Linked DNA regions of Homo sapiens. The protein of the gene in region 3 purifies or fractionates together with the protein of the main gene of each other region. This does not show direct contact. Each region holds a gene or a part of one and is shown on either strand. Other genes may lie near its edges. The genes, in order: COP1, UTP25, MVP and TEP1.

Region 1 (5,973 bases), on a different chromosome or scaffold from region 3:
AAGAAAAAAAACAGTACACTCAACATCATCAGTGTATTTCAAAACATTATACCAAACGAAAGAAACCAGACACAAAAGACTACCGACTAAAGGACTCCATTAATATGAAATTCCAGAAAAGGCAAAATGACAGCAATGCAAAGCAGATCACTGGTTGCCAGGTGTTAGGTGTGAAGGTAGACACAGAGTATGAAGTGCTGGCAAAAGTGAACTTTCTGGAAATGTATCATATCTTCATTAGGGTGGTGACTGCACAGGTGTATTCATGTGTCAAAACTCATTCAACTACACACTTATGACCAGTGACTTATTTTATGCAAATTATAACTTAGTAAAGCTAATTTTAAACAAAATCAGCCTCTAAATAAAGGCAAGGAAATGGGTGGTTAACTTGGGTAACCATTTGTAATAGTGGTTAAGAACCTGACCTCTGAGCCAAATTGTCTGAATATAAATACTGGTACCACCATTATTAACCGTGTAACTGAGACAAGTTATATAACCTCTATGGGCCACATTTCCTCATCTACAAAATGGGAACTATAAGAGTATCTACAGCAAACAGTTGTTGTGAAGATTAAACAAGTAACGTAAAACCTTTAAAATAGTGCCTGGCAAATAGCAATTTATATTTGAGCACTTATTATTATGAGTATTTGTCCCAAACTAATTGTCAGTACAACACATTCCATCTTCACTTGAGTGGACTTGGCATTTATGAACGTTTGAGTTTCAAATATCTAAAAGAACCCCCAAAACAGTCGTAATTTTTACAAAGCCTACTTTGTCTCATTATCTCTATTTAGAGCCAAATGCCCATCTGTGAATTAATACTAAAGACAGAGGATTCCAATGCACTAGACACTTGAGCATGGATCATGTGTTCCAATTCTGAATTTGGGGAAAAAATGTACCACCCCAAACCACACAGATTAGGAAAGAAGGATGGATTCCCAATGGTTACACCAGAAATACAATAAACAGAAATCAGATCACCTACTGCATTCTATGTTTCACTTTATATAGAAACAGAGGCAAAATCAGTTCATAAAACTTAATTGTGAAAAATGAAAGGACAACTAACATATTTTAAGTATAAAGAAAAACATGTTACTCTCAGTGAATATATTGTTTGAGAAAGTACCAACCTATCTGAATAGAACTTGGCTCATACACACATAAAGAAAGAGGACAAAGAACAAGTAAGGTGGAGGGCAAAGACAAGTCTGCACAAAAACCTGAATGCTTACAGAATTTTGTCCTACATACAACATCACATATAAAAACAGATCAAGAACTTTAAAAACAATTTAGCAGAGTTTCACTACATTGCCCAGGATGGACTCAAACTCCTGGAGCTGAGACTACAAGCATGCACCATCATGCCCAACTTAAAAAACATTTTATTTGGTATACAGGTTGAATATCCCTAATCTGAAAATCTGAAATCCAAAATCATGCAAAATCAAAAATTTTTTCAGTGCCAACATGACTATCAGAGGAAATGCTCACTGGAGCATTTTGGATTTCAGATTTTTCAGATTAAGGATACTAACCTGGTAAATATAATTTAAATATTCTAAAATTCGAAAACAAAAACCAAAAAAACCCCTAAAATCCAAAACACTTCTGGTCTCAAGCACTTCAGATAGAGGATACTCACCCTGTAATACAAATTTTAACAGGAAAAAGACGATGGGCTAATTCCACCGTCAAAAAAGCCTTTCCTCCCAAGCTGTGGAAGTTTTCTGAGGAAAAGGGTAGCAGGTTAAAATAATTATATAAAATATGAAAAAATCACCATTAAGAAAAAACATACACATACAAGAAGGAAAAGTAAGCAACAAGGTTTAAGGCTACAGTTACTTTAATCAGTAACAGTTCTTAGATGGAACATATCCACCTATGTAATGTTGGCTCATTATCAGAAAAGGTATAAAGATTTGTAAAAGGAAAAGATAACTGCTTATCAACACATTCTTTAGTAATGAACTACTATTGCACAAGTACCTTCTTCTCAATTTATAGACTACAATTCCAAGTTAATAGTCTTCCTATCCTGTTTCATGATCATCTATTTTCTCTACCATTTAATTCACCCATAGAAGTCTCCTGCTACCATTGATGCTGATGCCCCACCATCTGATAGTCCACAGGTCTGACAGTACCAATAGGTCTGATAAAATATGACATCATCTCCTGCAGAGTATGTTTCATCATTGACATCCAAATGGCACATGTATTATAAAGCAAAAGAAGCATCAAGTTTGACTTTTGCAGATTCAAATAAGTTCTTGACAGATATTACTATAATAATATAATAAATGCTGGTTTATTCCAGTAACTGAACATGCTTTTAACAGCTCTTTAAATTATATTTAGTCCTATATTTATAAGCTCACAATGGTCTAAAAAGAAAAGTCACTTAAACTTTCCACTTTCCTATCAGAGGAAATTCAGTCCTATAATTCAGTGACTTTAAAAAAAATTTTACCAGTGTACCCAGTGAGAAATACATTCCACATACATTGCTGCACAAACTGTTACTGTCTTTATTACGACAGATTCTATGATACGTTCTAGTTCACTTTTTTTTTTTTTTTTTTTTTGGAGACAGGGTCTCACTTTGTCGTCCAGGCTGGAGTGCAGTGGTGTGATCATAGCTCCCTGCAGCCTCGACCTCACAGGCTCAAGTGATCCTCCCATCTCAGCTTCTTGAGTAGCTGGGACTACAGGCACAAGCCACCACACAGGCTAATTTTTGTATTTTTTGTAGAGATGGGGTTTCGTCATGTTGCCCAGGATGGTCTCAAACTCCTGGGTTCAAGTAATCCTCCTGCCCTGGCCTACCAAAGGGCTGGGATTACAGGCGTGAACCAAGGTGCCCACCCTCACTTTTTAATAGTCTGAAAAACAGAGCCACGTGTTTTTCAGACTATTAAAAATATCCTGGGATTACAGGTGGTGGCACCCGTCTCTAATCCCCGCTGCTTGAGAGGCTAAGACATGAAGATTGCTTGAGCCCAGGAGTTTGAGACTAGCCTGGGCAACATAGGGAGAGCCCTGTCTCAAAAAAAGGAAAAAAAAAATTGGAAACCAGTTATATTAACAAGAATGGTCAACAGGCTTCATTTTTAGTGCTAAAATGTAATTAATAGGTAATGGCTATATATTGTACTATGCATAGTCCATTAGAGTATTTAACATCTGCCATGGCACTAAGAAAAAGGAATGGTACTAACATCTGTCATGACACTAAGAGAGGCAATGATACCAGGTTATGATATTATAATTACACAGTTAAAAGCCATTCTTCGAATTAAATCATGAGCTCCTTAAGAAGAGAGAATCTTAGTTTAACACAAAATAGGCAGTCACATATTTACTGAATGGTAGATCTATTTAATGTAGATCCTAACTATTTTCTATCAAGCAGATGATTAAAAGTCAACCTTCTCGGCCGGGCGCGGTGGCTCACGCCTGTAATCCCAGCACTTTGGGAGGCAGAGGCGGGCGGATCATGAGGTCAGGAGATCGAGACCATCCTGGCTAACACAGTGAAACCCCGCCTCTACTAAAAATACAAAAAATTAGCCGGGCGGGGTGGCCGGCGCCTGTAGTCCCAGCTACTCGGGAGGCTGAGGCAGGAGAATGGCGTGAACCCGGGAGGCGGAGCTTGCAGTGAGCCGAGATCGCACCACTGCACTCCAGCCTGGGCAGCAGAGCGAGACTCCGTCTCAAAAAAAAAGAAAAAAAGTCAACCTTCTCATAAAGAGCTTACTATCTACATGCAAACGTATACTTCTGCTGCAAGAATGGCTGGGACTTGCAGAGGTAGAAAACTTCATTTGAGATAGCTGGAAAAGCTAATACAAAGGCAGTAGTTATAGAATTGTTTAAAAAAGGAGTCCGTATAAAAAACAGAAGTCATCTTTCAAATACAGACCAGACTCACAGTCTAGTTAAATGAACCGTAAGAAAATTTTGCAAAAAACAAAATAACAAAGACTTCCTCTGAATGTTGAAAATGTATCCAATGTCAAGCTAAATACTACTGTCCTGTATTAGATTCTCCATCAATAAAACACTGTTAAAATTATTCAACTTGATAATACCTTCAATCTTTTGTGTAAAATAAAATATAAAAATGCAACCTAAACCCCTAAAATGTTTATGAATTCTTCAATTAAATATAAACTTACTTTCAAATATAAGTCAGGAGAGGCCAATGTTTATTACTGAAATTAGGTACGTGACTATTTAAATCAACAGTTCTCAAGGAGGGGAGAAGGACAGGTCCCTATCACCAGGGGAGCATATGCAAATTACACCACCCACCCCAGCCTCCAATTCAGGTACGTCTTCTTGGGATGTGGGCAGGTAAGAAAAGGGAGTGGTGAGGGATAAAACATTTATCTCATATGATTATGAAACAGCTGCTTCTCCTCCAATCTGTGCCGTTTAAGAACCACTGGGCTAAATACATGTACTCGAACTTACAGATCTGAAACTCTCTAATTGCACACAAAGAAAACACAAAGTTGAGAACTGGGAAATCTGAGTTCTCATTTTGTCCTTACCTGTCCAACGACAAACAAAATTACTTCTCTGTGCCTCAATGAGAAAATAATTAGTATTGTATTAAAAATAAGTTATATATAACATCACAGAATTGTTCTAAGGATAAAATAAAACGTGAAGCATAAGCATATCTTTAAAATGTCCCATAAATGAATAAGAAATTATCATTATTTGAACTTGGGCTTCGTTTAAATATAAAAGCATAGAATAATTTGAATTGGTTCACAGTTTGACCTTGGGGCATACAAGACAAGACCCACAGCCAAACGGGGGGAAAAAAAAAGAAAAAAAGGATTCCTTGGGCCTTGCCTAATCCATATCATCCTACCCCAAGAGTCTGGACAAAATCAAACCTGGCTTGAGTTTTAAATCAGATTCTCATTAATTAATTCTTCTGAATATTAAACCTCACCAGAAAAAGAAATAATTAACTAATGAGATTCTTAGAAAGTGAAATACTCAGGACCACGGTGGCTCACACCTGTAATCCCTCCCAGCACCTTGGGAGGCCGAGGCGAGCAGATCACCTGAGGTCAGGAGTTCAAGACCTGCCTGGCCAACATGGTGAAACCCCGTCTCCATTAAAAATACAAAAAATTAGGCAGGTGTGGTGGCAGGTGCCTGTAATCCCAGCTACTACTCGGGAGGCTGAGGCTGGAGAATTGCTTGAACCCGGGAGGCGGGGGTGGCAGTGAGCCAAGACGGTGCCACTGCACTCCAGCCTGAGTGACAGAGCAAGACTCCGTCTCAAATACAAATTTTTACTCTTTTAAAAAAAGAGTTCCCAATTCCCTATAGCATAGCCTGCAGTGCACTGAACTTCATATGGTGCCTGGCCGACAGTGAATGTCATACAAGTATCTCTTGAATGACAATGATCGATTCCTTATTCCTCACATCTTTTACTTTATTTTAGTGTACTTACACGGAGGCTAACATGTTTGTGTTCGTTAAGTATACTAAAAATTAAAATGCAAACAGTGGCTAAAAAGACAACTAAATTATGCACACCCCACTTTGTTTTATTAGCTTATTAGCTACTCGCACTATCGACTGTGTAGAAGTGCAAACACTTCTCAGCCCCAACCATAAACTGCTTATTTATAAATAACAATCATATTACAGCCCAAATGTTCAATGAAAAACAGATTAATTCTGATAAAGAATAACGTACAAAAAAGCAGAAAGGTGAATAAAGACATCATTTTTCTGCAGGAACTAGAAACCGTAAGTCTAATCAATAACTTTCCTAACAGTTCCAACTTCTAGCTCTATCTTATTTAATAACACCAACTCAGACCATCTTCAACCCTGATCTGAATCAACTTCCCTCATAATGACTGTGCAAGCAGCCAACTTCCTACATGCCTAATATTTGATCAACAATTTCCT
Region 2 (5,973 bases), on a different chromosome or scaffold from region 3:
GGCAAAGGGTACAAGATGTCTTTGTATGATTTCTTACAACTGCATGTATATCTATAATTATTCCCTCAATAAAAATTTCAATTAAAAAAAGGATGACCAACTCTCATGAATGGCATCAGTGGTAAGAACAAAGAAGCAAAAACTGCCCAATATCTGGATAATTTATTTGTGGACCTACCTCAGATATTTCAAACAAATGAACAACAGTAGTACCTACTGTTTTAATGAACACTGTTTTACTGAACACTATGTATTAGTAAACTATTCTATTTTGAGATAGGTATTATTATCCCCCTCTAGCAGACTAGAATAGTGAATAGCAAAAAAGCAGATGAACTTGCCTTGGGTCAAAATGTGATAGCTCCTTGAAGATGTTGGTCTCCAAATCCACTCTTACCCATCATTATATTATCTGGCACCCACACTCCAGCTTCCTGGTGCGTTTTCTAGCTACAACTGTGCCCCACTAGGCTCTTCTAGCCTTCCTTATGCCCTGCTTCCCTATCAAGCCATCTACTGCAGGTGTATATCATACATTCTGGGAGGCCACTAAAACCCAAGACCACTGTTTTATTTAGAGCTTTCTCTATTTGTGACCGGGATGACCAAGCAACACTTACTTTAAGCTCGTGGGTAGTTTTGGGATTTGTGGCAACAGCCTGAATTGCTTTTTCTTTCAGTTCTTTGTTCACATGTTGAAGAAATGGATCTAATTCAGAAATAAAAAATGTCAGCACACTATGCAACTACAGAGGGGTTTTGTGGTCTTCCCCTGTGAAAGACATGTTGATCTTCATTGTGTTAACTCATCCTTTTCTCCATTGACTTTCCCCACCCTCTGGCCAAGTCCAGAGCTTAAAAACTTCTGAAAGGTTCATTTTCCTAAAACATTTCTCTAATTATATTACTTCCCAGCTTGAAAACTTTTGAAGAAACTTCTCAGCCTGGAATTCAGAGCACTTTAGGATATACCTCCAACCTGCATCTCCGTTATCATTTCTGGACTATATGGCCCTCAAATTCTTCTGCCTCTGTGCTTTTCCTTCCTTCAACTAAAAATTCCAGCCTCTCCTTCACTTCATTTTTGCATATCCAAATGTTATCAATTTAATGTTACCCACTGAATCACAATAAATACTTCCCAGGCTTACTGTGTTAGGCACAACGTTGGCTCACCTTGTTCCCTAGAGTCATCACTTTCTCAAGTCTCCTACTCTGCCCAACCCACCCATTCCAACACATATACATATATACATGTCTTATCTAGCAGACTGCAAGGTCTCTAAGAACAGGTTCCATGTCTGATTGATCTTGCACTGGGACACACAGATATGACCAATACTCCACTGAATTGAACAAATGATCCACATGATAGCATCTGCACTCCAAGTAATCTTTAGTATTCTGAGCTAGCCACCCAACCTTCTCTCCCAGTCCCACTCATAAGAAACAGAACAAAGTTAAATGACCCATCCAAGCATCCAAACAGTAAAATTTCAAATGAAATGCATCTTGTATTAAATATCTAAGAGTGAACAACAGGACATAAGAATTCTAGATGCTAATATATCTGTATGAGCAAAACAACCACAGAAATTATGGGACAGTCAAGCTTCCTAATGTTTCCTCCAAAGTTTCTAAGTTTTAATGGTTCAGAATGGAGTTTGTACTAAAATCTACAAATTCTACCTGTCACTTCTTCTCCTGCAAAATAACCAACAGAACTAAATGAGTCAAATGAGGATTAAAATTTCTGTTTCATTAAAGGTAAAGCTGGGTTGAAGAATGGCAATGAGATCAATGAAGGCAATCAGGATACAGAACGAGACCAACCTGACTTGCCCACCCAGACACTGGCTGAGAAACTGGACTTGAGACAGCAGGAACCCATCAAAGCCCGCCATAGGCACGTCTTGACCACGTGACTGCCATTTGGTCACAGGAGTGGTCAAGAGTCTGTGGGAGGCAGGAGACACAGGGTAGGGCTTTTTGGCTTTTGAGGGTCTCCCTGGTAATAAAGACCACTCAGATTAGCCACCCCTGGGTCTTGCAAATCTGAAAAATTACTGCTCCAAAAAGGAACAGCAAGTGAGGGGTAGAGGAAGTATTTTTTCCTCTTTTTCTTTCTCTTTCCCTACTTGGGGAGAAAATCAGAAATCTTCCCCTGACTCCAATAATGAAAATGTGAGGCCTGGGAAGCTGGCCTTCCCTACCATCATTCTTGTTTGTTCTCCTAAATGTCCCGTCCAACCCCTAAACACTGAGAAACACAAAATACCTTTTAGAATTATTTTTCCCAGCTCTAGATCTAGCCACTAAACTGTTTTTATTGCTGTTTGTTCCAATAATAGATTCAATGTGTATTAGTACACAAATTCCATACTAAGCACCTGGTGAATTCAAATAACACACACTGTGCTATGACCTTGAGAGGCTTTCAAAGAAGAGTTGTCTCCACTTTCCTCTTCCAGAAAATTGGTTTCCAGGCTGAACAGTGACTCGTGTTTTGCATCTGTGAACTCTTCGGGGGATGTTTGTGATGTGCCCGGTGGCTCTTCCCCATCTTCTTTTCCCTCAGGGTCAGCAGATAAAGCTACATCTGCAGTTTTGAGAAACATTTTATAAAATTATTTACTCACAAATTATACTTCTGTTGACAAAATTTATTTCCTTAGGCTATACCAACAATAGCGTTCATTGATACTATTTATATTTAGGTAAATTCAGGTAGAAAACATAGATTTCAAAATTAAGCCTAATCATCAACACATGATGCATGATGGTGGGTTTTATGTCTCAATTTGGCTGGGACACAGTGCCCAGATATCTGGCCAAACATTATTTTGGATGTTTCTGCGAGGGTATTTTTGGATGAGCGTTTATTTATTTATTTATATATTGAGACAGGGTCTGGCTCTGTCACCCAGGCTGCAGTGCAGTGGTGTCATCTTGGCTCACTGCAACCTCCACCTCTTGGGCTCAAGTGATTTTTCCACCTCAGGCTCCCGAGTAGCTGAAACTACAGGCATGCACCACCATGCCTGGCTAATTTTTGTATTTTTCTGTAGAGATGGGGTTTCGCCATGTTGGCCAGGCTGGTCTCAAACTCCTAAGCTCAATCGATCTGCCTGCCTCAGCCTCCCAAAGTGTTGGGATTACAGGCGTGAGCCAGATCTCTTTCTCATATACACACATATCCTACCGGTTCTGTTTCTCTGGAGATTTCGAATTAATATACCCACTTCTAGTTCTAGGAACTTATTCTAAAATAGTAACCAGACATAGTACACTAAGATGTACATGAGAGGATGTTCAAAGCAGCACTGATTATAAGAAATAACTGGGGGAAAAAGGGTCTATCAATGGGGTACAATCATATTTTTACAATGGAATACTATGTAATTAAGAAGCTAATGTGAATCCACAGTCACAGATGTAGGAAGTTACGGAAATGTATAAGGCCATTATACAGATACACATAAATATATATACATACTCATATATAATCATAAAAATGTAGTCTGAAAGGTTATATACAATGCTAAAGGTGTTTATCTCTGGGTAGCAGGGATAGAGGGTAACTATATTACCCTCTTAAATGTTTACAGTAAATATATATTATTTTTATAATGATAAAAAAATTTTCATTTTTAAAAATCCAAAAAAGCAAAGAAAAATAGAAACAAACAAAACAAACTCCTAAGTGTAAGTCAATGAATTTTTATCTCAGTAAAACTGATCAGTTAAAATACCTGGAATGATATATAATACCAGAAGGTATAAAAAAAAAATAAGGCTATAAGAAAAATAGGCATTAAAATAATGAGTAAAAAGTCACCCAGCTATATTCAGACAATGGAATGCTATTCCAGCAACTAAAAAGTAGTAAGTGACTAATACATGCACAACACAAATAAATTAGAAAAACATGAGAAGCAAAAATAGCTAGACACAAAAGGAGTCATACTGTATGATTCAATTTATATGAATTTCTAGAACAGGCAAAACTAATCTACAGTGACAGAAGGCGGGTCAGTGGCTGCCTGATGCCAAGGGTGGGGAACTGACTGCAAAAGGATAAGAAAAATTTTTGGAGGTAATGGAAATGTTCTGTATCTTGATTTGGATGTATACCTTTGTCAAAACCTGTCAGACTGTATATTTAAATTGGATACGTTTTACTGTATGTAAATGATACCTCAATGAAGGTGATTTTGAAGTTAAAGAAAAAAGTCACCTTCAAGTCTGAGTGACACAGAGTCCCTGAAGCCTTCCCTAATTTACACTGGCAGTGTTCAACCACTCTGCCTCTCTTCAACACCTTACATCTAGCTGTTCCATGCAATCGCAAATCTACTGTTTGAAATTTTTTATATATATTTATGTCTATCTTCCATCAAACTTGGTCTCCCTAAGAGAAGAACAGTAACCTCTTCAATAAATTCAGACAGTCACAAAGACAGAACTGTGTTCTCCTTCCTCTGTATTAGGAGGTCTTTCACTAGTACTGATGAAGTCCCTGAAATTACAAGCAAAAATGTTATTTCTGCCTAGCTGTGCTAAGAAGGTTCTGTGTTTCCATCAGATTCTCAAAGATACAATCAAACCCAACAAGGGTAAATCCCTATTTTGGATTCATGTCCTTTCATCCAACTCACACAGTATATAAGGTACCATGCTCATGAGATGAACTGTCTATAGTTCTGGCAAAGATGATGAGCCTATAGTAAAGACACTTACTCTCTGGACTTTCAGTAGACTCTGCAGCCATCTCTTCTTCCACACTGACATCGCTACCACCATCTTCATCGTTCATTTCTGCATCATCTACAATACTGTCTTCTTCCTCTTCCTCCTCCTCATCTTCCTCTTCTTCCTCAGAAACATTCTTTAATGTAGCAAGTAGTCTGTGGTAGCCAGAAACTTGTTGTGGTTCACTCTCTGAGTCGCTTTCAGAATCTGAAGAATCTGAACTCTCTGACTAAAAGGAAAAGGAGAATTTTAAGAACAAAAACTATATTGTTCTTATTGTTACCCTAAAACTATCATCAAGCCAACATCTATTCAACGAAGCCCAAATTCAAATTTACTTAAAATTGCTAATCTAGCTATGATTCTAGAAGCTCTTCATATGCTCCAAACTGCTACTGCCCCACTTTTAAAACATAAAACTTCAGGTTATGAGATTTAATTTATGTCCCAGGCATTAGGCCACAGGTTTAATAGAACAACAGGATAATTACAAAACAACAAAAGAAAACAGGTTTCTTTTTTTTTTTTTTTAGTTTGTTGTAATATGATAGGCCCTTTGTTCATTTTGCACTGTATTTGTGACTCCTTTATGCTAACCAAAAAAGATATTCCCTCTTAGGATTCACTAAGAGCCCTCTGATAAGCCTCTGTAACAGGGCCTAATAGGCTAGTCTCCTGGGACAATTTCAAACTGTGGCTTCTGTATTAGATATCACAATGGCATTTTTATAGACATCTGCATTTAAAATTAAGTGATACTGCCAAAATAATAGCTTGCATCTGAAATCAAAAGGAATAGAAATGTAATCAAGCTTTATTATTAGATATAATCTTAGTGGGAACAACCCAAAACCAACTATTAAAAAGAAGGTAGAAAGCATTACCAGTTGACAAATCTGTGGCTTTGCTTCCTTTCTGGAAACCCTAAAAAGAAACAGGCAATGTTACATTCTAACTACTAGTATGTAGAAATTAGGAAAAGGTCAAATGAGATGTTAAATGAAAAAGGCAGAATATAACATTATAAATACATTTTAGATATAGTCATGCAAAAATTACACATGCACTTGGGCAGGGCTGGCAAGAATATGGTTAATAACTGACAAATGAAAAGTTTAAGGAGGTCACATGACAAACCCTAGAGTCACACAAGGCTCTCATCCAAAAGAAGGATACAACTTGGCTAAATAAAAGATTTCGGGGTTCATGTTTTTCTAGCAA
Region 3 (5,973 bases):
CTGCCACCATGTACGGCTAATTTTTGTATTTTTAGTAGAGACGAAGTTTCACCATGTTGGCCAGGCTGGTCTCGAACTCCTGAGCTCAGGCAATCCGCCTGCCTTGGCCTCCCAAAGTGCTGGGATTACAGCCACTGCGCCCGGCCTGAAACTGATCTTTATCCTCCTCCCAGTTCCTACTGTGCACCAGAGACCCTCCAGTCTCTAATACCTTTGACTTGAAGAGCAGTCATTTTTTTTTCCTTTTCTTTTCTTTTCTTTTTTTTTTTTTTTTTTTTGAGATGGCCTCACTCTTGCCCAGGCTAGAGCGCACTCGTGTGCTCCATTTACGGCTCACTGCAGCCTTGACCTCCCAGGCACAGGCGATCCTCCCACCTCAGCCTCCAAAGTAGCAGGGACCACAGGTGTGCACCACCACACCTAGCTAATATTTTTTATGGTTTTTATAGAGACAGGGTCTCCCTATGTTGCCCAGGCTGGTCTTGAACTCCTGGCCTCAAGTGATCCTCCCATCTTGGTCTCCCAAAGTGCTGGGATTACAGGTGGGAGCCACCAAGCCTAGTCAACAGTCACTTTTATTCTCACTTCACTGGAGAGGAAGGCTCAGAGGCTAGTAAGTGGCCCAGGAGCATGCTGGCAGTGATAAAACCTGCTGGAGTGACATTTTCCCACTGGCTCTCAATCCTGGATATATATTAAGAGTCAGAGGCCAGGCGCGGTGGCTCACGCCTGTAATCCCAGCACTTTGGGAGGCCAAGGCAGGCGGATCACGAGGTTAGGAGATCAAGACCATCCTGGCTAACACAGTGAAACCCCATCTCTACTAAAAATACAAAAAAAATTAGCTAGGCGTGGTGGTGGGTGCCTGTAATCCCAGCTGAGGCAGGAGAATGGCATGAACCCGGGAGGCGGAGCTGCAGTGATCCGAGATCGTGCCACTGCACTCCAGCCTGGGTGACAGAGCGAGACTCGTCTCAGAAAAAAAAAAAAAAAATGAGGGAGAACTTTTTACAATAGCAACGGGTGAACCTCACCCAGACCAATTAAATAGAATCACCGGAGATGGGTGGCTTTAAAAAAAGGTCTCCAGAAGGCCTGGCGCGGCAGATCACACCTGTTATCCTAGCCCTTTGGGAGGCCGAGGTGGGTGGATCACTTCCAGCCTGACCAACATGGCGAAACCCTGTCCACTAAAAACAAAATTATCTGGGTGTGGTGGCGGACATCTGTAATCCCAGCTACTTGGGAGGCTGAAGCAGGAGAATTGCTTGAACTCGGGAGGCAGAGGTTGCAGTGAGCCGAGATGGCTACACTCCAGTCTGGGCAACAAGCACGAAACTCCATCTCAAAAAAAAAAAAAAAAAAAAAAAAAAAAAACAGATTTCCAGATGACCAGTGTGCAGCCCGAGCCGAGAGTCTGCTTTAGACCAGAGCTGCTCAGACTGTAATGTGCATGCAAGTCATTGAGGGTCGAGTTAAAATGCCAGTAGATTCAGTGGCTCTGGGGTGGGGCCCCAGGCTGTGTTGCTATCAAGCCTCCAGGTGGTACCACTCTACTCACTGCAGACCCCGTAGGCAGTGTGGTCACTTGGTCAATTGCCATTTAAGACTCACTAGGGGCCAGGTGTGGTGGTTCACGCCTGTAATCCTAGCACTTTGGGAGGCTGAGGCAGGCAGATTGCCTGAGCTCAGGAGTTTGAGACCACCCTGGGGTGAAACCCCATCTCTACTAAAATACAAAAAATTAGCCAGGCTTGGTGGCATGTGCCTGTAATTCCAGCTACTCGGGAGGCTGAGGCACGAGAATTGCTTGAACCTGGGAGGTAGGTGGACGTTGCAGTGAGCCGAGATTGTGCCACTTCACTCCAGCCTGGGCTACAGTCTCCAAAAAAAACAAAAAAGAGATTCAGTATATCAGCTACTCACAGTTGACCCTGAAGATCTCTGGGAAGTAGTGACTCATGACTCGTTTATTTATTAAGTTTTGCTGTAGCAGAAGTTTACTTTTGAGCCAAGAGTCTGATCCGGTCTCCCTCTTTTTTTTTTTTTTCTTTCTTTAAAGAGATGGGGCCTTGCTATGTTGCCCAAGCTGGTCTTGAACTCCTGGCCTCAATCCATCCTCCCACCTTCGGCCTCCCAAAGTGTTGGGATTACAGGTGTGAGCCACCTCTCTCAGGCAAGAGCCCCTCTTTTAACTAGACAATGAACCTGGTTTCTGCTTTGGACAGGCTATTTAGTTCCTGCTTATTTACCCTCATGGTGGGAGAGACCCTGGTGGGATTTGGGGTGAAAGCTGGCTGTGGTTCTTGCAGGAGCCTCATGACACCTGAGGGAGGTGTGATCAGGCAAGACTGGGCCTCTACACTGAGAGCCGACTAGGGCAGGTCTCAGAAGCAGAGACTGAAGGAAGTTGGGTGGATGAGTGGATCTGGGGAGCAGGGGCCAAGCCTGAGGGCTGGGCAGAGCCTTCCAAAGGTCAACACAATCCTTGCTATTGTCTTTTGAGGGCCCTGATCTATTTTAAGTAAAATGCTCTAACTGCGCATGTCATCTGGAAGGAAACCACAAAAAACTCAATCTGAGACTTGTCACCAATGTGCTGCCTGAGTCAAAGGGTTTCCCTGGCTCACCTCCATAGATGGCGAGGGTAGAAGGCAAGACCTGTCCTGGGTGGTCTAGGCAGAAGGCCCAGGTTTAGGGCATGGCAGGTGGGTGGTCAGGGAGGTGAGGTGGGGTCCTGGTGCTGATGCAGGGGCAGTTGCCGAGGGCTTGGCCTCAGAACAAGGCAGGAGTCCAGCCATGAGGATGACTCTTGCTGAGTCACTGAGCTGGGCGAGGCATTCAGACCCCCTGACTGGGCCCAGCTGGGGCGGCAGATGGTGGAGAGGCCTCAGCTGTGGGGGGTGTTGGGGAGATTATCCACTGATGAACCAAATGGAGGCTGTTCCCAGAGCCTGCTTCCAACCTTGCACGGCCTTCTAGAGTTCAAATCTTTCCTGGGGGGGCCTCAGAGCCCTGTCCATACCTCCGCTCACAGCCCCAGCCCTTCCTCTTCTCCCATCTGGTTTCCTGGCCAGGTTTCGGCCCTGCGGAGAACCCTCCAAGGGAGCAGTGGAAAAAGCTTCACTTGGCAGTAAAGCCCCTACTTGCTGTTCCATCCCTGCAGCTGGGGTGAAATAAGCCACTGACCAGTAAACAACTGAGGCTTAAACCAGCATGCCAGCTCAGGTGGGGAGCCCCCAGCACTGGTTATATTCCCTAGATTCCTCACTGGATAGGAAAGTTGGGCCTCAGGCACTCTTCCCTCCTCTGCAGTCAAACAGTGCAGATGAAGAGCCAGGCTCTGTTCCCAGTGCTTTATGTGCTAACTTGGTTGATAATGTTATCCATTCTCATTTTGTAGATGAGGAAACAGGCACAGGGTGGTCAAGGGACTTGTTCAAATCACTGATCCCATAAGGGTGAGAGCCAAGATCCAGGCATCCTGGCTGGGTGCGGTGGCTCCACCTGTAGTCCCAGTGCTTTGGGAAGCTAAGGCTGGATGACTACTTAAGACCAGGATTTTGAGACCAGCCTGGACAACAAAGACCTTATGCCTACAAAAAATTAAAAATTAGCTAGGTGTGGCAGTACGTATCTACAGTCCCAGCTACTCGGGAGGCTGAGATGGGAGGATCCCTTGAGCTGAGGAGTTCAAGGCTACAGTGAGCTGTGATCACTGCACTCCAGCCTGGGCAACAAAGTAAGACCTTATCTCAAAAAAAAAAAAAAAAAAAGGCCGGGCGTGGTGGCTCACGCCTGTAATCCTAGCACTTTGGGAGGCCGAGGCGGGTGGATCACAAGGTCAAGAGATCAAGACCATCCTGGTCAACATGGTGAAACCCCGTCTCTACTAAAAAAAAAATACAAAAAGTTAGCTGGGCATGGTGGCAGGCGCTTGTAGTCCCAGCTACTTGGGAGGCTGAGGCAGGAGAATCATTTGAACTGGGGAGGCGGAGGTTGCGGTGAGCCGAGATTGCGCCACTGCACTCCAGCCTGGCGACAGAGTGAGAGTCCATCTCAAAAAAAAAAAAAAAAAAATCCAGATCTAGGCATTCCCAGCCCTCTGGACTCTAGGAAGTCGTCTTTCCAGAACAGAGCCCCGTATTGTGGAGCAACTGGGGGGTGGAATCAAAGGTGAGCAGGACAGGGCTATAGGAAGAAAAGACAAGGTCCCCATAAGAGTGGCGAGAGGAACAGAGCCAGGACATCGGAAAGCAAGCCCCTGTGTTCCCAAACCGCAGAAGAGGGAGCTCTGATGTTAGACAAGCCACCCTCCTACAAGCGAAGGGAAAGTAACTTTGAGCAAAAATGAGCAACAGAAAATGAGATCAAGGTCAGATCTCATACAAAGTTGCAAGATGAAAGAATGAGCAGCAGAATAACCTCCCTGTGATGTGGAAAGTGTGCCAGGAAAACAGACCCAAACTGTAACCTCTTTCAGAATGAGGCAAGGCAGTGAGGAAACTATGTGAAAACACGAAAGCAGCCGATCAGAGTTGTAAGCCCGGGCAGTCTGGGTTGGAATGGGTGCCCCGAGCCACGGGACCATGATGCCTCTCTAGAAAGACAGGACCAGGCATTCCACCAGGGTTCTAGTCCCAACAGCACCACTAACTTGCTTGTGGCCCTAAAGGATTCATTGTCCCTCTCTGGGTCTCAACTATTTAGAGCTCTACTGTCCAGTATGGGATCAACCAGCCATATTTGGCAATTTAAATTAAAATTAGCTGGGTACGGTAGCGTACCCCTGTAATCTCAGCACTTTAGGAGGCTGAAGCGGGAGGATTGCTTGAGCCCAGGAGTTCGAGACCAGCCTAGGCAACATAGCAGGACCTTGTCTCTGCAAAAAAAATGAAAAAATTAGCTAGGCGTGGTGGCACATGCCTGTAATCCCAGCTACTCGGGAGGCTGAGGTGGGAGGATCACTTGAGCCTGGAGGTTGAGGCTGCAGTGAGTCATGATTGTGCCACTGCATTCCTGCCTGGGCAACAGAACAAGACCTTGTCTCAAAAAATAATTTAAAAATTTAGTTCCTCAGATGCATTAGCCACATTTTATTTTATTTTTTTCCAAGACAGAGTCTTGCTCTGTCGCCCAGGGCTGTAGTGCAATGGCGAGATCTTGGCTCACTGCAACCTCTGCCTCCCAGGTTCAGGCAATTCTCCTGCCTCAGCCTCCCAAATAGCTGGGATTACAGGCACGTGCCACCATGCCCAGCTAATTTTTGTATTTTTAGTAGAGACAGGGTTTCTGCATGTTGGCCAGGCTGGTCTCAAACTCCTGACCTTGTGATCTGCCGACCTCAGCCTCCCAAAGTGCTGAGATTACAGGTGTGAGCCAGCATGACCGGCCATTAGCCACATTTTAAGTGTTCAGGAGCCACATGTGGATGTGGCTAGTCCAAAGACAGCACAGATTTAGAATATTCTCATCATTGTAGAAAGCTCTATTGGACGCTGCTGAGTAAAAGGGTTTTTTTGGTTTGGTTTTGAGATTGGAGTCTCGCTCTGTTGCCCAGGCTGGAGTGCAATGGCACGATCTCTGCTCACTGCAACCTCTGCCTCCCAGGTTCGAGCAATCCTCCTGTCTCAGCCCCCCTAGTAGCTGGGATTATAGGTACCCGCCACCACAACTGGCTAATTTTTGTATTTTTAGTAGAGACGGGGTTTCGCCATGTTGGCCAGGCTGGTCTCGAACTCCTGACCTCAGGTGATCCACCTGCCTTGGCCTCCCAAAGTGCTGGGATTACAGGCTTGAGCCACCACGCCCGGCCAAGTTAAAGGGTTTTTAAACAAGAGCTGGGCAGTGCAATGGCATAGCTGTAAGGCAGCAGGGGGTGGTGGGGACTGTGGTAGGTGGGAAAGCTTGTGTTCCATCTAAATGGGGCAGCTGCTGCTTGACTGTAGGCTGTATTGCTGGTCTTCTAATTCT
Region 4 (5,808 bases), on a different chromosome or scaffold from region 3:
CCAGCTACTTGGGAGGCTGAGGCAGGATAATCGCTTGAACCCAGGAGGCAGAGGTTGCAGTGAACCGAGATCACGCCACTGCACTCCAGCCTGGGCGACAGAGTGAGACTCCGTCTCAAAAAAAAAAAAATTTGCGCACTTGATTGTATCTAAGTTGTAGTTAAAAAAAAAAAAAATTCCTGACCAGCCCAGAGCAGAAAACTGTTGTTTTGTCTGGTACAAGTTGACTCATATGGGTAGGCTAAACAAAATTACCTATTCTTTCACAGAGGCAAAAGGAATCAGGAGAGTTTGAAGAGAGGCTGAACTTTGATATAAACTTAGAGAATCCTAGTAGGACCCTAATATCGATAACTCAAGCCAAACCTGAATCTGGTGAGTGGTAACAGGAGGACCTGAGGAGCCGGGAGATGGCCCAGGGTGGATGGCAGATCCCTGAGACTTGGCTCTAATTCTGTCCTTAAAATGGCAGAGTCCTCATTTTTGTGTGCCAGCTCTGATGGGATCCTATGGAACCTGGCCAAATGCAGCCCAGAAGGAGAATGGACCACAGGTAACATGTGGCAGAAAAAAGCAAACACTCCAGAAACCCAAACTCCAGGGACAGACCCATCTACCTGCAGGGAATCTGATGCCAGCATGGATAGTGATGCCAGCATGGATAGTGAGCCAACACCACATCTAAAGACACGGCAGCGTAGAAAGGTGAGTTTGAAGGAAGGGTCAGAAATACTAGGGGAGGGCTGGGAGCAGTGGCTCACACCTATAATCCCAGCACTTTGGGAGGCCTAGGCGGGCAGATAATGAGGTCAGGAGATCAAGACCATCCTGGCTAACACGGTGAAACCCCATCTCTACTAAAAAATACAAAAAATTAGCTGGGCGTGGTGGCGGGTGCCTGTAGTCCCAGCTACTCGGGAGTCTGAGGCAGGAGAATGGTGTGAACCCGGGAGGCAGAGCTTGCGGTGAGCCGAGATTGCGCCACTGCACTCCAGCCTGGGCGACAGAGCGAGACTCTTGTCTCAAAAAAAAAAAAAAGAAATACTAAGGGAGGAGGGCTGTAGGTCTGACACAGCACATTGTGATGCTTCTCTGAGGAGGGGCCCCTGAGAACTCACCATTCTGCTCTCCCCTTTCCTCTTTGAGATTCACTCGGGCTCTGTCACAGCCCTCCATGTGCTACCTGAGTTGCTGGTGACAGCTTCGAAGGACAGAGATGTTAAGCTATGGGAGAGACCCAGTATGCAGCTGGTAAGTGTGTGTGTGTGTGTGTGTGTGTGTGTGCGTGCGCCTGCACACCTATCCCAAAGGGATGTCACAAGACAGCAAACTTAGAGTAAGAAAGGGCAAAAGATCAAAATTCTGTTTTCTTCAATCACTTGCAATGTATGACTAACCTGTTTCTAAATAAAAGGCATTAATGTGAGAAAAAATAAGTTAGTAAGGAGGCTTGTAGCCCTGACCTCCCCTATTTTTGTTCCCATCGTAGCTGGGCCTGTTCCGATGCGAAGGGTCAGTGAGCTGCCTGGAACCTTGGCTGGGCGCTAACTCCACCCTGCAGCTTGCCGTGGGAGACGTGCAGGGCAATGTGTACTTTCTGAATTGGGAATGAAGATGTGCCACTCGGGAATAATGATACCCCTTGTGCTAGAGATGCAAAGCCTGAAGACACTGGTAGCTTTTAATAATTATAAAATTAATAATTTCTTGATAATTATAAAAATGAAGTGTCAAAAAATCTCAAGTGTAGGCCTGCCTGTGTTCTCATGTGGATTTAGAACAGGAGGATATTCTATGTGTATGTATATGTACATTCTAATGTGTGTCTCTTCTTATTCAACATTAATCCTTACTAGAACCACAAGAAAGTGAATGAAATCTTTAGTAGGTACTCTTTTGAAACTAGGTTTTAGAATTCTTGCATCACTCGCGGGCCCTAGGACCCTAGGATGCCATTCTTGCCAGGAGGAGGAATGAGAGTGATGTTGGCCAACATTCAATTTGAACAGAGCATGGAAGACCTTTCAGTTCATCGGGAAAGAATGAGGGAGGGAGAATAAGTCAGTCATGCATCAGGGCATTTAGAAAGAGCTATGTTTCTGTCACAGAGACAGCCCTTTTCTCAGAACTACCCAGAGGAGGCCGGGCATGGTGGCTCACGCTTGTAATCCCAGCACTTTGGGAGGCCGAGGTGGGCAGATCACGAGGTCAGGAGATCAAGACCATCCTGGCTAACATAGTGAAACCCTGTCTCTACTAAAAAATACAAAAAGTTAGCCAGGTGTGGCGGCGGGCACCTGTAGTCCCAGCTACTTGGGAGGCTGAGGCAGGAGAATGGCGTGAACCCAGGAGGCGGAGCTTGCAGTGAGCCGAGACACCACTGCACTCCAGCCTGGGCAACAGAGCGAGACTCTGTCTAAAAAAAAAAAAAAAGAACTACCCAGATGAGAGGTGAGGAGCCAAGCCATTGAAAGCGGAACAAACCTTCTGGTTTTCCCAACTTCTGACACGACTTTCAACTTTAGTCAATATGGTAATTGGCATTCTCAGAAGAGATCACGAAAGTGTCTTACTCTCTCTCAAATTGAAATTCACAAAGATTAAAACTAATTGAGAGGTGGCACAATCATAGCCATGAACTCTGATTTTCTTAAGTAAAAAACCTTTTTTTTTTTTTTTTGTTTTTGAGATAGAGTCTGGCTCTGTCACCTAGGCTGGAGTGCAATGGTGCAATCTCAGCTCAGTGCAACCTCTGCTTCCTGGGTTCAAGCGATTCTCCTGCCTTAGCCTCCCGAGTAGCTGGGATTACAGGTGCCCACCACCACGCCCAGCTAATTTTTGTATTTCAGTAGAGACGAAGTTTCACCATGTTGGCCAGGTGGGTCTCAAACTCCTGACCTCAGGTTATCTGCACACCTCAGCCTCTTAAAGTTCTGGGATTACAGGCGTGAGCCATTGTGCCCGGCCCATAAAAGAACTTTATTATATTTCTAAAATTCAATCATATGGAAGAATCTATTGAGCAGGTTAGCCTTTGCTTAACTTTCCTCCTCTGTTACTCCAGCCTTAGCTGGGGTGTTTTGTAGAATTTTCAGAGCATGGGAGACAGACAACTAGAGCTTCCTCCTGCCCTTGGCCCATGCTTTTAGGAGAGCAAAAGGCAAAAGATTGAAACCACTGACTTTAGTTTCCTCAGGCCCTTTCTTTCTGAGGGTTAAAGAAGAAGGAAATGTCTTCTGTGGCCAAGAATTCAAGGACTTGTAGGAGATAAGTGAAGGCTATTACAGGGATTTTGTCCTGGTTTGGTAGGTTTCTCTTGGAGAAATACCACTACACCCTGGTCTAGAAATGAGTTTTGAAGACTTGGGGAGTTAAAGGGCACTGAGTTTTACTCTCACTGTACCCTGATTCCAGGTTTTACATGGAGAAATAACCTGAGGGACTTTATTTCTATCCAATGCCCTGGTTTCCATCCTGACCAGAGGATGATGACATCCGCTGATAGGCCATGCTTCTGTCTTCTCTTATGTGCCTCATGCCAAGCCTCGAAATATACCTTCTGGACCATCATTTCCACATCTACCTTGTGACTAGAAGTCCTAGTTATGGTATTTTGAAATTTATGATCCATAATCCTTGCCAGAAATCCTGCAGCGAACTATGGCATGGCATCATCCTAGTCATTGATTTCAATCTTTTGCCTTTTGCTCCCCTAAAATCTTGGGCCAATTGCAGGAGGAAGCTCTATTTGTCTCTCTTCCATGCTCTGAAAATTATATAAAAGCATCCCAGCTAAGGCTGGAGTGAAGGGGTTGGGGAAAGTTAAGCAAAGGCTAACTTGACCAATAGGCTCAATAGATTCAGTCTTGTTGGCCAGGCCCACTTGAAGGGTTTTTTGTTTCATCTTGGAGAAGGACAGTGAGGTCATGGTATAATTGTTATGAGTAAAGTCAAGAACAGCTTCTAGGTAAAAGTAATTATGTACCCAAAAGGAGTTGAAGGGAAAATCAATTTAGGTTTACATTAAACATCCTTCAAGTTCTTATCTTTAAATGGAGTTTCAGTGTCTCCCAAAGGCTGGATGAGTTTTACAGTTATAACCACTGGATTGTGAGACCATAGGACATTTGAACAATCTTTTCTTCTACCCATCTAGAAAAGCATCTTTTTTATATACCAAATTTTTACACATATATCCACATCTGTTTTTGAAATCTAGAGCAGAGGTACTCAAAGTTTGGTTCATGGACTAGTGCCAGTTCACAAATTGTTAATGTTTTATAATGAGATAAGTACGGAAGTTGAGAGTAACCATTTAGAAACTGTGTAGGAATTTAAAAAGTAATATCTGACAAATTTAATAATAAAAATGGAGGCTTGTATTTTGTGTGCTTTTTAATTTCATTTTCTTAATAATCCATTTTGATTATATTTTATAAAAGTATTATTCCGTGACAGATAAGAAATTAAAACAGGCCAGGCACGGTGGCTCACGCCTATAATCCCAGCACTTTGAAAGGCCAAGGCGGGTGGATCACCTGGGGTCTGGAGTTCGAGGCGAGCCTGGCCAATATGGTGAAACCCCGTCTCTACTAAAAATACAAAAAATTAGCTGGGCATGGTGGCAGGCACCTGTAATCCCAGCTACTTGGGGGGCTGAGGCAGGAGAATCGCTTGAACTCAGGGGGCAGAGGTTGCAGTGAGCCGAGATCGCATCATTGCACTCCAGGCTGGGCAACAAGAATGAAACTTGGTCAAAAAAAAAAAAAAAAGAAAAAAAAGAAAGCAAGAAAGAGAGAGGGAGGGCGGGAGGGAGGCAGGAAGGAAGAAAGAAAGACAAAGGAACAATTAGTCCTTCATCTCAGAAGGTTTGAGAAGCACTACTCTAGAGAGACTGGGTAACAGCAGCAAAAAGCATGGACTTGGAATAAGACTGCCTGAGTTCAAATCTTCATGCCTCCTTTCCCCCATTTGTACAACAGCCATAATAATGGTGCTTACTTCATGGGAGTGTTTTAAGGACTAAATGAGTTAAGGTGTAAAACACAGAACAGTGACACTTTTGTGGTAAGTATTCAATAAGTGCTAACTTGACTGTTCTTTTTGTTACCTAGCAGTACGAGTATCACCTCATTATTCTTTCTCATAAATGTCTTATTTATTAGTATATATTTAATCAATCAGAAAATCTGGACCGAATTTTTTAGTTTTCAAAAAAATGTGAAACTCGTATTCTTTCTAAGTTCAGGGGTACAAGTGCAGGTCTGTTACATAGGTAAACTTGTGTCATGGAGGTTTGTTGTACAGTTTATTTCATCACCCGGGTATTAAGCCTAGTACCCATTAGTTGTTTTTCTTGATCTTCTCCCTCCTCCCACCCTCCAAATACCTAATCTTCTCATCCAGAACGATGGGTATGTTTCTTTATCAGTTAAAATATTAAAGTTATGCTATCATAACAACCCCAAAATCTCAACAACTTAAAATAGCAAAGATTTATTTCTAAATCATGCCACATGGCCCGTTAAGGGTCAGCGAGAAGGCCCTGCTCTACTTTGCGCATATTTTGAGCTCTGTGCTTCACGTGGCGAGTAACTCTTCAATCTTCCACTTGGAAATAAAACACATCACTTCCACTCATATTTAATAAATACAAGCAAAGCAAGTCACGTGGCCATACCTAATGTCAAGGGATGGGGAGGAAGTATCCTACGATGTGTCTGAAAGAAGAACCAGGAGCCAATACACAGATGACATCCCCAAAGAACATATCTGTGTTGGTGCTTTCCCACTAGAATGGCTCTTAAT

The links.
Region 1: the proteins of MVP (region 3) and COP1 purify together in Homo sapiens (affinity purification with mass spectrometry; 3 studies listed by BioGRID and IntAct, with this or other methods). This does not show direct contact.
Region 2: the proteins of MVP (region 3) and UTP25 fractionate together in Homo sapiens (co-fractionation; one large-scale study listed by BioGRID). This does not show direct contact.
Region 4: the proteins of MVP (region 3) and TEP1 purify together in Homo sapiens (affinity purification with western blotting; one study listed by BioGRID). This does not show direct contact.

The regions. Positions count from the first base shown.
Region 1 is NC_000001.11:176,199,598-176,205,570, forward strand, and holds part of COP1 (E3 ubiquitin-protein ligase COP1), read right to left. Parts: intron 1-5,973. UniProt on the Homo sapiens protein: E3 ubiquitin-protein ligase that mediates ubiquitination and subsequent proteasomal degradation of target proteins.
Region 2 is NC_000001.11:209,829,811-209,835,783, reverse strand, and holds part of UTP25 (U3 small nucleolar RNA-associated protein 25 homolog), read right to left. Parts: intron 5,677-5,973; coding exon 5,637-5,676; intron 4,982-5,636; coding exon 4,741-4,981; intron 2,600-4,740; coding exon 2,426-2,599; intron 710-2,425; coding exon 621-709; intron 1-620. UniProt on the Homo sapiens protein: Component of the ribosomal small subunit processome for the biogenesis of ribosomes, functions in pre-ribosomal RNA (pre-rRNA) processing. Essential for embryonic development in part through the regulation of p53 pathway.
Region 3 is NC_000016.10:29,822,865-29,828,837, forward strand, and holds part of MVP (major vault protein), read left to right. Parts: intron 1-5,973. UniProt on the Homo sapiens protein: Required for normal vault structure. Vaults are multi-subunit structures that may act as scaffolds for proteins involved in signal transduction. Vaults may also play a role in nucleo-cytoplasmic transport.
Region 4 is NC_000014.9:20,364,241-20,370,048, reverse strand, and holds the end of TEP1 (telomerase protein component 1), read left to right. Parts: intron 1-269; coding exon 270-375; intron 376-472; coding exon 473-705; intron 706-1,146; coding exon 1,147-1,251; intron 1,252-1,489; coding exon 1,490-1,612; 3' UTR 1,613-4,382; downstream 4,383-5,808. UniProt on the Homo sapiens protein: Component of the telomerase ribonucleoprotein complex that is essential for the replication of chromosome termini. Also a component of the ribonucleoprotein vaults particle, a multi-subunit structure involved in nucleo-cytoplasmic transport.